3 linked regions of the Homo sapiens genome follow. The protein of the gene in region 3 purifies or fractionates together with the protein of the main gene of each other region. This does not show direct contact. Each region holds a gene or a part of one and is shown on either strand. Other genes may lie near its edges.

Region 1 (4,146 bases), on a different chromosome or scaffold from region 3:
GCAAAGGATGGAGGTGACTGAAGAGTGATATAGTCAAAAGCCCATTAAAGAACTGGACTGGAACCTACCCACCTGAAACTGCAAACTGCAGGACTGGACTCACCAGGTGCCATTGCTGCGGGTACTTGGGGTCGTTGAAGTGGACGCTGCGCTTGGCCCGCCTTAGCAGCCTCTGCTCTGAGTGCCAGCGCACAGCTTCATGCCCAGCCAACACAGCCTCCACCTGCTGCCGGATGGCCTCCACCTCCAGGGCCGGCCTGTGCCCAGCAGGCTGGACAAAGAGGTAGTGCCCCTGAAGCTCTCCGATGCGTCCAGCATTCACCAGCCCTGCTGCCTGGGCCAAGGCATCCGCCTGCTGCTCCAGAGTCTCTTCCTCCCCGTCACCTTCCAGGCTTTCCAGGTGCACAGCCCAGCTCGGCCCCCCTGTGCCCTGGCCATCAGGCCCACCTGTCCCTGCCAGGCCCATGACCCAGGGAACCAGTAAGAAGAGCCCGGCTAATTCCAGCCAGAGGCAGGTGGGCAGGCCCAGGGGGGCATCCAAGTGTGGCACTTTCTGCCTCCCCTTCGGCATCAGAGCAGTGGACTGCAGACAAAGAAAAAGGATATGGAAGAGATCAAAGAGCTGGTAACTGCAGGAATCTGAGAGGGAGATGCTGAGCCATCCATGTGTTCCCCCTGGAAGTCCCTAAGCCATGCCTTTTAAATTGTGAAACATTTGATCTTCTCTTTTTGTTCACATTTATCCCTGACCAACAGGGATAAGCCCCCAGGTGGAGTGTGGGCCAGCACTAACACCAGCGGATGGCCTCCCACAGCAAGACAGCCAATCCTCACGACACCAGCTAATCCAGCAGGAGGTCCAGTTGCTCACAGGCACTGCGAGCAACCCCTGTTGCCACCCACAGGGCTCAAAGCACACATCGCTTCCACAAACTACTGGCTGCATCGTGACTGTTCTTTAGCAGAGACAACCCCTTCACCCCTACATTTAGAGGGGACATAAATCTTTCCCTAGCTGACTCCTCAGTCCAGTTGTCCTCAAGGCTAATTCCCCATAACAGGGCCCCGTGCCCACCTGGATTCTACATGAGGTTGAGCTCCTGGTCTGGCTAACCACGTCACACTCATGTTGTGCAAATGGAGAAAAGGCATCACTTTCACTGTGAGTAGTGTTGACTCAGCAAAGGCTACAGACCTGTGGGATCCAAGAACAGAAGAAATAATGTCCCACCAATCCCAGGGCAACAAGCTGAGGTTAGATAAACTCCAGGACCAGGGACCAAAGAAACTTCATTAATTGTCATTTCCAAAGATCTAAAATCGGTCATAGACTGGAGCAGAACTGGTACGGTGAGGCCAAATCAGTATAACACCCAAAAAACCCACTTCCTGTGCTATCGTGCCACCCTCTTTTCATTTTGTTCCCCAGAGGCCTAGCAAAAAACAGTTACCAAAATGCCTCTTGAAAGAGTAGGTAATAACGTCCTAGAAGTCCAGGTGGTAGCTAACTTCTTGATTTGTATATCCCAGAAGGATACCAGGGAAAGTGAAAGGAGGGAGGCGGCGGGGGCGAAACGGGGAAAGCCAGAGAGTGCAAACAAAACAGAACAGGCACCAAGGACAAGCGGGCAACCAGGAGAGAACGAATGATGAGAGAACCTCACTAAGCAGCTACTCCTGTACTGAGCTCAGGAGGCTGGCTTCAAGGTGAGGACTCAGACTCCAGACTGGGACTCCAATTGCCTGGGTTTGACAGAACCAGGGAATTGGTCTCAGGAGCCCTCAAAAAAAAAAAAAAAGAGCCAAGTTAGAACTGGGGGACAGACAAATGGGGTGGCAGGACATGTGTGTACCTATGGTGGCTGGGCTCCTTTAAAAGCCTTTGCTCTCCACTGGGTCCACCCTGGGGCAGGGCTTAGTACTCAGATACACACCCAAGCGGCTCTACCTCAAAGCATTCCAGAAAAATGGGAATTTTACTGAAAGGCTTCCTGGAAAGGAGAACTTATGCCACCTCTCCTTTACCTCTAAAAATCTTCATACTACATTTCTTCCTCTCGTTTTCTCTTAGGTTTCCAGGCATATTCCCTCTCAATCCCTCCCTGCCCCCGGGAGCCTCAATTCTCCCAAGATATTTAGGTGTCTTCCCCAGTCTGCATACTCTACTAAGTAAACAAACTAACAAACAAAACCCTTGTTAGCCAGACAGTGGCCCCGCTAGGCAGACTCCTTCAGACTCAGTAGATCCCACCACAGATGTCAGGAAGAAAGAGAAGCAGGAGCTCCTTCTGTCTACTAGTGGCAAAGCAGCATTTTTATCCCCCAGGCTTCTGGGAAAGGAACCTTAAATGCCTTCTGAAAGCAGGTCTCAACCTCTCCCAACGGCTAGGCCTCCCTTTACAGCTCTTAATTGACAAGGAAGAAGAGAATGGGCAGCCTGGAGTCCAAGATCCTGCTCCCAAGCTACTGTCCTCGCTGTTCCACACCCGGCTCCTAGAAGCCAGCTTGGGTACCGGGTCAGTTTCCCGATTCTCCCTCCGTCGGCCTCGATCGCTCCGTGCAATGTGCCCCTCTCCTCATTAGCACCCACATTATCCAGGAATTCTGGGCCCTGGGGCCCCATCTCCTTGGTCCCCCACGCCAGGACCTCAGGCACCCTCTGTGCAGCTCCCTCATCCTCAGACGCCGGCTTCCCCCACTTCTGGGGCCCCCTGACCACCCAGGTCCAGCCCCACACCTAGTTCCCAACTCACCGGCCCCGCCGCAGCTGCCGCCGCCTCCCTGCGGAAACTCGCGGCTTCCCGGGAGCCGGAGGAGCAGTGACAGCAGCATCACTTCCGCCCGCGGCGCAGCCAATCAGCGCGGCGCCTGCGGCCCGGCGACCCCCGCGGGCCACAGCAACCGGCGCCCGGGGTCCGGCTCCCGCGGGCGGCCTACGCAGGCAGGGGCCGTGCGGGCGCTGGGGGCTGAACCCGCGGGCTCCGCCTCCCCGAGTCCTCGGGGCATCTTCCACATGGTCCCTCTTCAGAAGGCTCTCCTTCATGGCGTCCTCTGTAAAGGGCATTTCGGTTCCGACCTTTAAAAGCCACTCGTTGCTCTTCTCCTTCTGACCGCCATGGCCCCGACTGTCCCTGTAATCTTCCCAGAGGGGATCCTGCCCACCCAGGTCGCCTTCCTTCTCGCAGTCGGCTCTCCCTTCTTCCCCGCGCCCCGGGAGAGTCCACTTGTATCTCAGGGGTCTCCCGCAGCATCCCCGTGCCCCGGCGGCGCCAGCTGTCGCCGCCAGAGGGCGCCGTCGGGGGCGGCGCGGCGCCACCGCGGCCTCTCCTCTCGCGGCCGGAGCCTCGCCCCCTCCGCTCGTGCCGCCGGAAGTGGGAGGTGCCGCGCGCGGGCCGGCGCTCGACCCCTCCCCCCGTGGCTCGGCCGCCCCCTCCCCCCGCTCCGCCCGCTCAGGTGCGTCCCGTCCCTCCCCCACTTTCCTCCCGGGGGCGCGGCGCGGGAGGTGTGTGCGGGGCGAGCGTGGGTGGGGGTTGCGGGGCGAGGGCCGGGCATGGGGGTCGGGTGGGGGGCGTGGAGGGTGCTGTGAGAACCGAGGCGGGGGTCCCGGCCTAGAAGTGGGACGGGGGGGTGGCTGGCAGCGGGGTGGGGGGACCGAGGGGAAGGGGTGGAGGGGGGTCTGGTCCGAGCCAGCGGCCAGCCTAGCAGTCCCCTGTGGGGGGTGGCCAAGGCCACCCAGCGCCGCTTCCCCCCATTGTCCCCTTCCCGTCTGTCCCCTGTTCTCGCCCGAGGACCCGTGGCTCCGGCGCCCCTGCTTCGCTGGTGGTCGCCCCGGGTTGCGGAGTTCTTTTTGGTACACTCGACCCTCCAGCCAGCTGTTCCTACCCGCGCCACGGGCTCTCTAGCCACGGAGTTGCATGCATGGCCCTTGTCCTGGGGTTTCGTTCACCGGGCGCAGAGGACCCCCCAGCCCTGGGCTATGTTGGAGACGGGATGTTTGCACCTGAGGGAGCAGCAATGGCGGTTTGGGCCCATTTTCTCCCAGGAGCTTTGTATAATGAGGGAAACTGAGGCACAGAGGGTCTGTGGGCTGTGACTGAGGTGTTGACACAGCCCCATCTACCTATCTGCCCTATGCGCTCTTCAGTG
Region 2 (4,074 bases), about 45 Mb from region 3:
CTTTAAGTCCTTTCTCCCCAGTTTGGTTGTAAACAACTTACAGGCATGACAGTCATACATCTGGCCAATCTGGATGAAGGGAACAGAAACCCATTCAAGTCATTTCAAGGGGGGGAAAAGAGCTTATTTTAATGCTACTTGGGAACTAGGGCTATAAAATTCGGGAGGGCAGGCTCCAAGGTCTCGCCACCCTCTCTCAGGATCTGTGTCTGCCCATCCATTCCATTTTCTTTGCTATCTCTCTACTCACTCATAGTTTCTGCTTTCTTCTATCAGCAGCATTCCCATGACTTATTATGGCCACCCATTCTCTCCCATACCAGCCTATTCACCTCTGCTCCCTTCTGCTTTTACTCTAAATCTCTAACTTTAATGTTTTCAAGAGAGATATGATTAACACAGAGACTCTTTTTGAGCCAAACCACAAGGTTACAAGTGTCTGAGTCACATAAGAATTGGTTGACCCTGGGTCAGGAGCCAACCATAGTCCAATCAGCTGAGGCCAAAAAGGCTGCAGTTCAGAACAAGGCCCTCTAGGCAGCAGGGCCTCTCTCAAAGGAGAATATTCCTTAGGAAAGGTAGGACTATATTTTTTAGGAAAGAAATATTTCCTAGGAAAGAAAAGTGTGGGCAGAGCAGGCAATGAGCCACAACGCCAGCCCCACAGAGTCATTATTTGTCTTCACCACAGTCCCAAGCACATGCTGAAGCTATAATAAACTGGAATCAACTAATCTCAGGGGAAAGGGTCATTCACTCACCAAGCACCACTATGGCCCTGACACTGTGCTGGACGCACAGGGAATACAAAGATTAAACAAGCAGCAGTCCTTGTTTTCCCAGAGCTCTTAATCCAAATGTGTCACTGAACTAGTTACTTGACCTTGGGCAAATTACTAAACCATATGGGCCACAGTTTCCTCAACTATCAGATGGCACTCCACCTTCACCAACCTCCAGGAGTGTTGTAAGTTTCCATAAAGTAATCTTTGTAAAAGTACTTTGGAAAATACACAAGCCAATCAAGAACAATACTGCAGCCCTGTAATCCCCTCACATGCCACAGGTTTTGCAGTGCTCTCAGACTTTTTCTCTTCCCCTTATTTCCCACAATATAGGACCCATCAATTGCTATTATTTAAAAGAACACCACCAACTATTACCATTCTACTTTCACTATCTCTATGACTAATTTCACTCAGAAGTGTAAAAAAAATGAATTTTTACAGTGTGCATTTTAAAAGTATAATGTATTCAACTGTGTATGTAAAACTATAATGCCCTATATAAGTATTTTTTGGGTATTACAAATGACAGCATGTACCGAATTCCTATGTAGTACACAGGCCAGTTTTGAATCTTGCTTCGTCTTCTCCCCACAGCAGTTTCATTTAATATTTCCTAAATACTGCAATCAGAAAATTTCAGGGACCCTATTTTTACAGGGAGCCCCTAAGGAGAAAAAATGGCCTGTCTCCATCCCTGAAATCCAATTCTCCTAACTTATATATTTTTCTAAAACCACTTCACCACCTGTCTCACATTAAAAGATGGAGGTGGGGAGGAAGAGTGGGAATCAGCGATGATGGCAAGATAGATTTCTGAAAAACATGTTATTCCACCCTCTGCAGGATTCAAGTACAGGTTTATGGGAGAGGACAAACAAACCTTGGGATATTTACAGTCTTGGCTTTGACGCGAGCAAAATCAAATAATATTTACAGAGTGCCTGCCACATGGCAGGCAGGATGTTGAGGGCTCCTCGGAGACGATGAAGAGTCTGGGCCCTCGGAAAGCTTACTTGCTTCTACCCCGGAGCATCTGTTGCTCAGTGTTGACAACCATGGCCATTCAAGAGCTGGCCCCAGGTGGAGCAAAGAAAACAGCTTCCACCTGGCTGAAAAGTCAGCTCAGCTGGCCGAAGTGAGGGTTTCGGGCAAAAGGGAAACACAAAAACGAAACCTCAGACGCGAGCCGGTGGGACTCCGCTGCAGGAGGCAGAATTGCAGAAGCTGTAATGCAGGGAACCCACTCGGCACCCGACCCCGATGAAGGCTCCCCGCGCTTCGAGAGCCAAGGGACTACGGATCAAAGGATCCTGCAGCCGGGGAAAAGCAAACTCGCTTCGCTGGGAGCTCAGATAGGGGGTTGCAAAACGGTGGGCGCCGGAGGCAGGGGCGGCGGGCTGGGGATCTGCTGAGTGGAAATCGAACTGGTGGGGAGGGAGGTGGGCAGGGCGAGTGAGCTCAGTGACTGGGACCTAATGGTCACACTGCGGTGCAAAGCACGCCTCGGGGCTCCCGCGGAGAACACCCATTCGAGGGTACTGGAGCCTGGAAAGGGTCTGCGAGTACACTGGGGGCAGCGCGGGGGGAAGGGTCCCCTAGGGGCCGGGCGCGACAGTCGGACTGCCGCCGGGGAAGAGGTAGGATGCGGTCTCTTCCAGGATAAACACACACGCTCACACACACACTCGCTTCCCGACCCCGGGCTAGCCCCGAGCCTCGGCGGCCCCTTACCTTCGGCGCGCGAGCGGATCTCCGACACGGTCCTCCGCATGGTGGGCATCGCGGCGGCGGCTGCAGGTGGGTCCTCAGCCCGGACTCTGCACCTGTCACGGCGTGGTACACGCGGGAGACCCGGCTGCGCCGCGCAGAGCGCTCAGCTGCAGCCTGGGCCGCGCCGCCGCCCACCTAGGGCAGAGCTGCCGCCGGGCGCGGCCCCCGCACGCCGACAGGAGGAGGAGAAAGGCAGCGGTGGCGGCGAAGGTGGCGGCGCCCGCAGAGCTGGGCGAGCTCTTGCTGCAGCCGCGGAGGGGCGGCTCGGCGAGGGGCGGAGCTCGGGCGCCGGCGCCGGGGGAGGGGCCTGCGGGGCTCGCGCTCCCCCTCCCGCGGCCGCTCAGCAAGGAAGGCGGGTGAGGGGCGGGGAGAGCCAGGGGGAGCCTCCTTCGCCCCGCCCCGCCCCGCTTCGGACCGTATCACGACTCAAAGGGGGGATCAACTCTTAGCCTCCTTAGTCCTCCAGCGTTTTCGCTCCGCCCTGTGGAGTTGGTTGACCCGGTTCCTCCTCCAGGCCACTCGGACTCTCTCACATCTTGCTCAGAAAGGAAAGACTGCTCTGGCTGCTGCATTCTCACGAATCCCCTCCCGCTACCCCTGGCTTTTGATCGCAGTGGAGCCGCCCGTCGTCCGGAAAGAGCTGTTGGGTCTGAGCCGGCAGGCGAAGGCGAAAGGGTCTGGGACTACAAGGTTTAGCTCCCAGCCAGAGCAGGAAAGGAACGACTGACTGTTCGCCATCTGGGTGTAATTCTAACCTCTCTGCACGCCCAGCCCGACTCGTGGCCTGAGCCGCACTTGTCCTCCTGCCTCGCCCACTAGCAACAGGCTGCCAGGTCGGGAGGCCCCTGGTGCCCATGGTGCTCTTGTCCATGGGGCTTGGGTGCATCTGGGCCCCGCCTGCAAGTGGGCCCGGTGCATCTCCCTAGTTCAGGCTCTGCAGCCTGACAAGGCACTGAAATAGCAATTAAGCCAACTAAGTATTGGCCCAGGTGGTTCACAAAAGACTTTTTTTTTTTCTTTTAGTTAAATCTGCATAAAGTTGGATGCAGTCGTTTTATCTGCAAAGGGGAGAGGAGTCTTTGTATAAAATCCATAAATATGTTAAATTTTAATTTGCCGATGTCCTTCAGACTATCATAGCCTCATTACCTTTTATTTTGTATACCGAGATCTATGCTAAAAAGTTGTCAAAACAAATACTTCACCTTCAAGTTAAGATGTAAGGTTTTGTGCTGTTTCTGGCGAGCTGCTGAACTGGCAGGAAAGGAATAAACCAGAAACAATAAATCAGAAGCAATTTGCTTCTTCCCTCATTTCATGCTCTTCCTCCAGCAACCAGCGAAAGAGATCCTCACATAGAGGCCTTTTATTTGAGATCTTTTCACATCCTGAAGGGAGAGAGCTGGAGAGGTTTGACCTGAGAGAGAAGTGATTATTTCCAAGCCTCAGGAAAAAATGAAATAAAATCTGCTAATAGCGTCCTATCTCCATTTGTGGTATTTCTTCTGCTTCCTGC
Region 3 (3,500 bases):
GTCAAGAATAATAATATTTCTCACAATATAAAATTTATATAAAATTCAAATTTCAGTGCCAATGTATAATGTTTCATTGGAATAAAATGAAAGTTACCTTTTTTTTTAAGATAGGGTCTTGGCCAGGCACAGTGGCTCACATCTGTAATCCCAGCACTGTGGGGGACTGAAGCGGGTGGACCCACCTGAGGTCAGGAGTTCGAAGCCAGCCTGGCCAACATGGTGCGACCCTGTCTATACTAAAAATACAAAAATTAGCTGGGCATGGTGGCGGGCACCCGTAGTCCCAGCTACTCGGGAGGCTGAGGCAGGAGAATTGCTTGAACCCGGGAGGCGGAGGTTACAGTGAGCCGACACAGCACCACTGCACTCCAGCCTGGGCGACAGAGCATGACTCTGTCTCAGAAAAAAAAAGGGGGTCTTGCTTTATTGCCCAAGCTGTTCTCACACTCTTGGCCTCAAGCATCCTTCTGCCTTGGTCTCCCAAAGTGCTGGGGTTATAGGCAGGAACCACTGCATCTAGCCAGCCTTTCGTTTATTATTGGAATACTGCCATGTTCATTTATTCATGTTATGAGCTTGGCTGCTTTCACACTAAAACGGTAGAGCTGACTACCTGAGACAAACACCACCTGATCTGCAAAGCCTAAAATATTTACTACCTGATCCTTTACAAAAAAAAAAAATATATATTGCCTACTCCTGCCCTAAGCTAATATTCCAGTTTTTCACAAATCGAAACAAAACTTGTCCTGCTAAGCAGATGCTCAGGGAGATACAAGGTCCTATTCTTAATCTAAGAGACTGCCACTGCTCTGAACATGGCTGGAATTCCTTTTGTGAAAGTGAGTTCACTGATGAGGCAGGGAAGCTAAACCTAGAGGCACTAGGCCAGGTGTTAGCATTGGAAGGAAGCCCAGTATCAAAACATGCAGAATCTCAGTGTGTGAAAAACAGCTCTGTGTTCTAATTATGCCCTCTCCAGTATTGCCACATAGGCGATTTGGACAAGACATTTATAAACCATTTTTTGAAGCAAGATAATTCAAGTTATTTTCCAAGTAAGAAAAATCTAATGCATACATCACACTAAAAAAGCAATTCATTACATTATTTCACTGTTGACAATAAGTAACCCAGGTTGATCCTACCAGACTGATTTCCAAATGATATCAAATCTATGCTCAAAGAATAAAATTTTGCCTTTAATTGATAGTATATAAAAGTGCCAGTGTTCTGACAGAAACACCAAATTATACGTACCAAAAACATTTGGAGAAATTAGCAATATGGTTCAACTAGGGATACAAGCTCTTAGATAAATTTATATATATACTTAACTAGCAGTATGGCTATACATACATATATGTGGCTATACATATATACATATATATACATAATTAGCAGTATGGCTTAACTAGGGATACAAGCTCTTAGATATATTTTATATATACTTAAGTATAGAAATTATGATGCACAAGTTTAAACGTCAGTAATATTTTACTAGAGCCAACAATGTGCCATCTTTTAGTACTCAACAGAAACTCAATATTGTTAATAAAAATAACAGCCCCAAAATAACCAGCTAAATTGACTTCTTTGAAGAATGGACCAATGAACTGGGAGTACTAATGTTTTGGGTGACAGAGGGGTTAAGAATAACAGAAAAGGCCAGGCATGGTGGCTCACACCTGTGATCCCAGCACTTTGGGAGGCCAAGGCAGGAGGATCGCTTGAGCCCAGGAGATCCAGACCAGGACAACATAGTGAGACCCTGTTTCTACAAAAAATTAAAAAATCAGCCAGGTGTTGTGGTGCACGGCTGTAGTCACAGCTACTCGGGAGGCTGAAGTGTGAGGATCGCTTGAGCCAAGAGTTTGGGGTTGCAGTGAGCTATGATTGCACCACTGCACTCCAGTATGAGTGACAGAGTGAGACCCAGTCTCTAAAAAAAAAAAAATGTGTAAAGAAAAGAATAACAAAAACCACAAGGAGTAATAATCACCAACTATCACAGAGCCAACCAAGGAACAAAGAAACATTATCTCATTTTGATTAACAGAAAGTTAATCTAACAATGAATAGCCTTGTTCTGTGAACTCAAATTTGCTTACTACATTTGTTTCACCTGTAAACTGTCTAAGGAAGGTAAATGACAAGGAACAGCACTTTGCACACAGGCTCTTCCCTTGGAGTGGCCAGCACATACTCCCTTTCAGGTGTATTCAGTGACAGTAGGTGAAGGTTTCCCTGATCACCTGATTCCAACTGCAAATCAACCTTCTTCTCCCTACTTCTCTCTCTTCCTCCCCTTTCTCCACCCCTTCTCTGCTTAAACTTTCCCCATAGTTTCTTCTACCATCTAACATGCTATCTATTTAATTTCTTTATTATTTATCATAACTGTCTTCCTCAAAAAATTAGCTCCATGAGCAGAGTTTTATTTTTGCCCATTTTGTTCACTACTGAATTCACATCCCTAAAGCACAGCACAGGCCCTATAAGAACAAGTTGAATGAATCAGTGAACAAAAGTGAACAGCTACCAGAAAACCCCAAAACTGGCTGACACTTCTTTCACAATTTCCCAAAAAAAAAATTTTTCTACTCAGATTATTCATTACAGCTTGTCTAAATCAACAAAAATTCTGAGTTAGGTAGTCTAAGAAACCACTAAAAAAAAGAACCTGGCCAGATGTGGTGGCTCACACCTGTAATCCTAGCACTCTGGGAGACTGAGGCAGGAGAATCGCTTGAACCCACGAGTTCAAGACCAGCCTGGGCAACACAGCGAAACCCCATCTCTACACAAAACACAAAAATTAGCTGGACGTGGTGGGACACGCCTGTAGTCTCAGCTATTCAAGAGGCTGAGGTGTGAGGATCACTTGAGCCCAGGGAGGTCAGGGCTGCAGTGAGCTGAGTTCATGCCACCACACTCCAGCCTGGGCAACAGAGTGAGACTCTGTCTCAAAAAAAGGGAAGCTTTCCAAAAGTAAAACTTAATTGTCCTTTATTTGTTCTGCTGACTGGTTCTATATCCCAGGTGGAGTGAAGATAACAAATAATTGGAAGGGTGGGTAGAAGATAAACATATCCTGAAGCAGATGATAACAGAACCACATTGTTCCCATTTGAGTATTTCAAAAGAATCTGCTGGTTACCTGAGCTATAGAGGCCTGGGGATTACCCAGCAAGTTTTTGAATGAACGCTTGGAAACCCATCTGAGTTGATGACAGAAGGAGGTGGTGTAGCTGATCTCCTTGAAGACTGTGATCTTCTTCTTCTTCTCACCCCCGGAAAGTTGATGTAATTCAGCTTTTGTCTCTTTGTAGAAGGAGGAGTTGACATAAATCTCCGCTAATTTTTCTATGAGTGGCTTATCCTGCTTGGAAGGCTCTATGATCTCTGTGGCTTTGCAATCAGTGGATAAAAAGGAAACACAAACAAGATAACAACAAATTTAGCCCATTTTTTCTGTGAACCCTTTCTTGGATGCT

Evidence for each region.
Region 1: the proteins of ABCG2 (region 3) and PCSK7 fractionate together in Homo sapiens (co-fractionation; one large-scale study listed by BioGRID). This does not show direct contact.
Region 2: the proteins of ABCG2 (region 3) and ATP8A1 fractionate together in Homo sapiens (co-fractionation; one large-scale study listed by BioGRID). This does not show direct contact.

The regions. Positions count from the first base shown.
Region 1 is NC_000011.10:117,229,274-117,233,419, forward strand, and holds the start of PCSK7 (proprotein convertase subtilisin/kexin type 7 preproprotein), read right to left. Parts: upstream 2,801-4,146; 5' UTR 2,754-2,800; intron 1,196-2,753; 5' UTR 1,076-1,195; intron 584-1,075; 5' UTR 572-583; coding exon 104-571; intron 1-103. UniProt on the Homo sapiens protein: Serine endoprotease that processes various proproteins by cleavage at paired basic amino acids, recognizing the RXXX[KR]R consensus motif. Likely functions in the constitutive secretory pathway.
Region 2 is NC_000004.12:42,654,306-42,658,379, forward strand, and holds the start of ATP8A1 (phospholipid-transporting ATPase IA), read right to left. Parts: upstream 2,801-4,074; 5' UTR 2,569-2,800; coding exon 2,520-2,568; intron 1-2,519. UniProt on the Homo sapiens protein: Catalytic component of a P4-ATPase flippase complex which catalyzes the hydrolysis of ATP coupled to the transport of aminophospholipids from the outer to the inner leaflet of various membranes and ensures the maintenance of asymmetric distribution of phospholipids.
Region 3 is NC_000004.12:88,110,140-88,113,639, forward strand, and holds part of ABCG2 (broad substrate specificity ATP-binding cassette transporter ABCG2), read right to left. Parts: intron 3,415-3,500; coding exon 3,164-3,414; intron 1-3,163.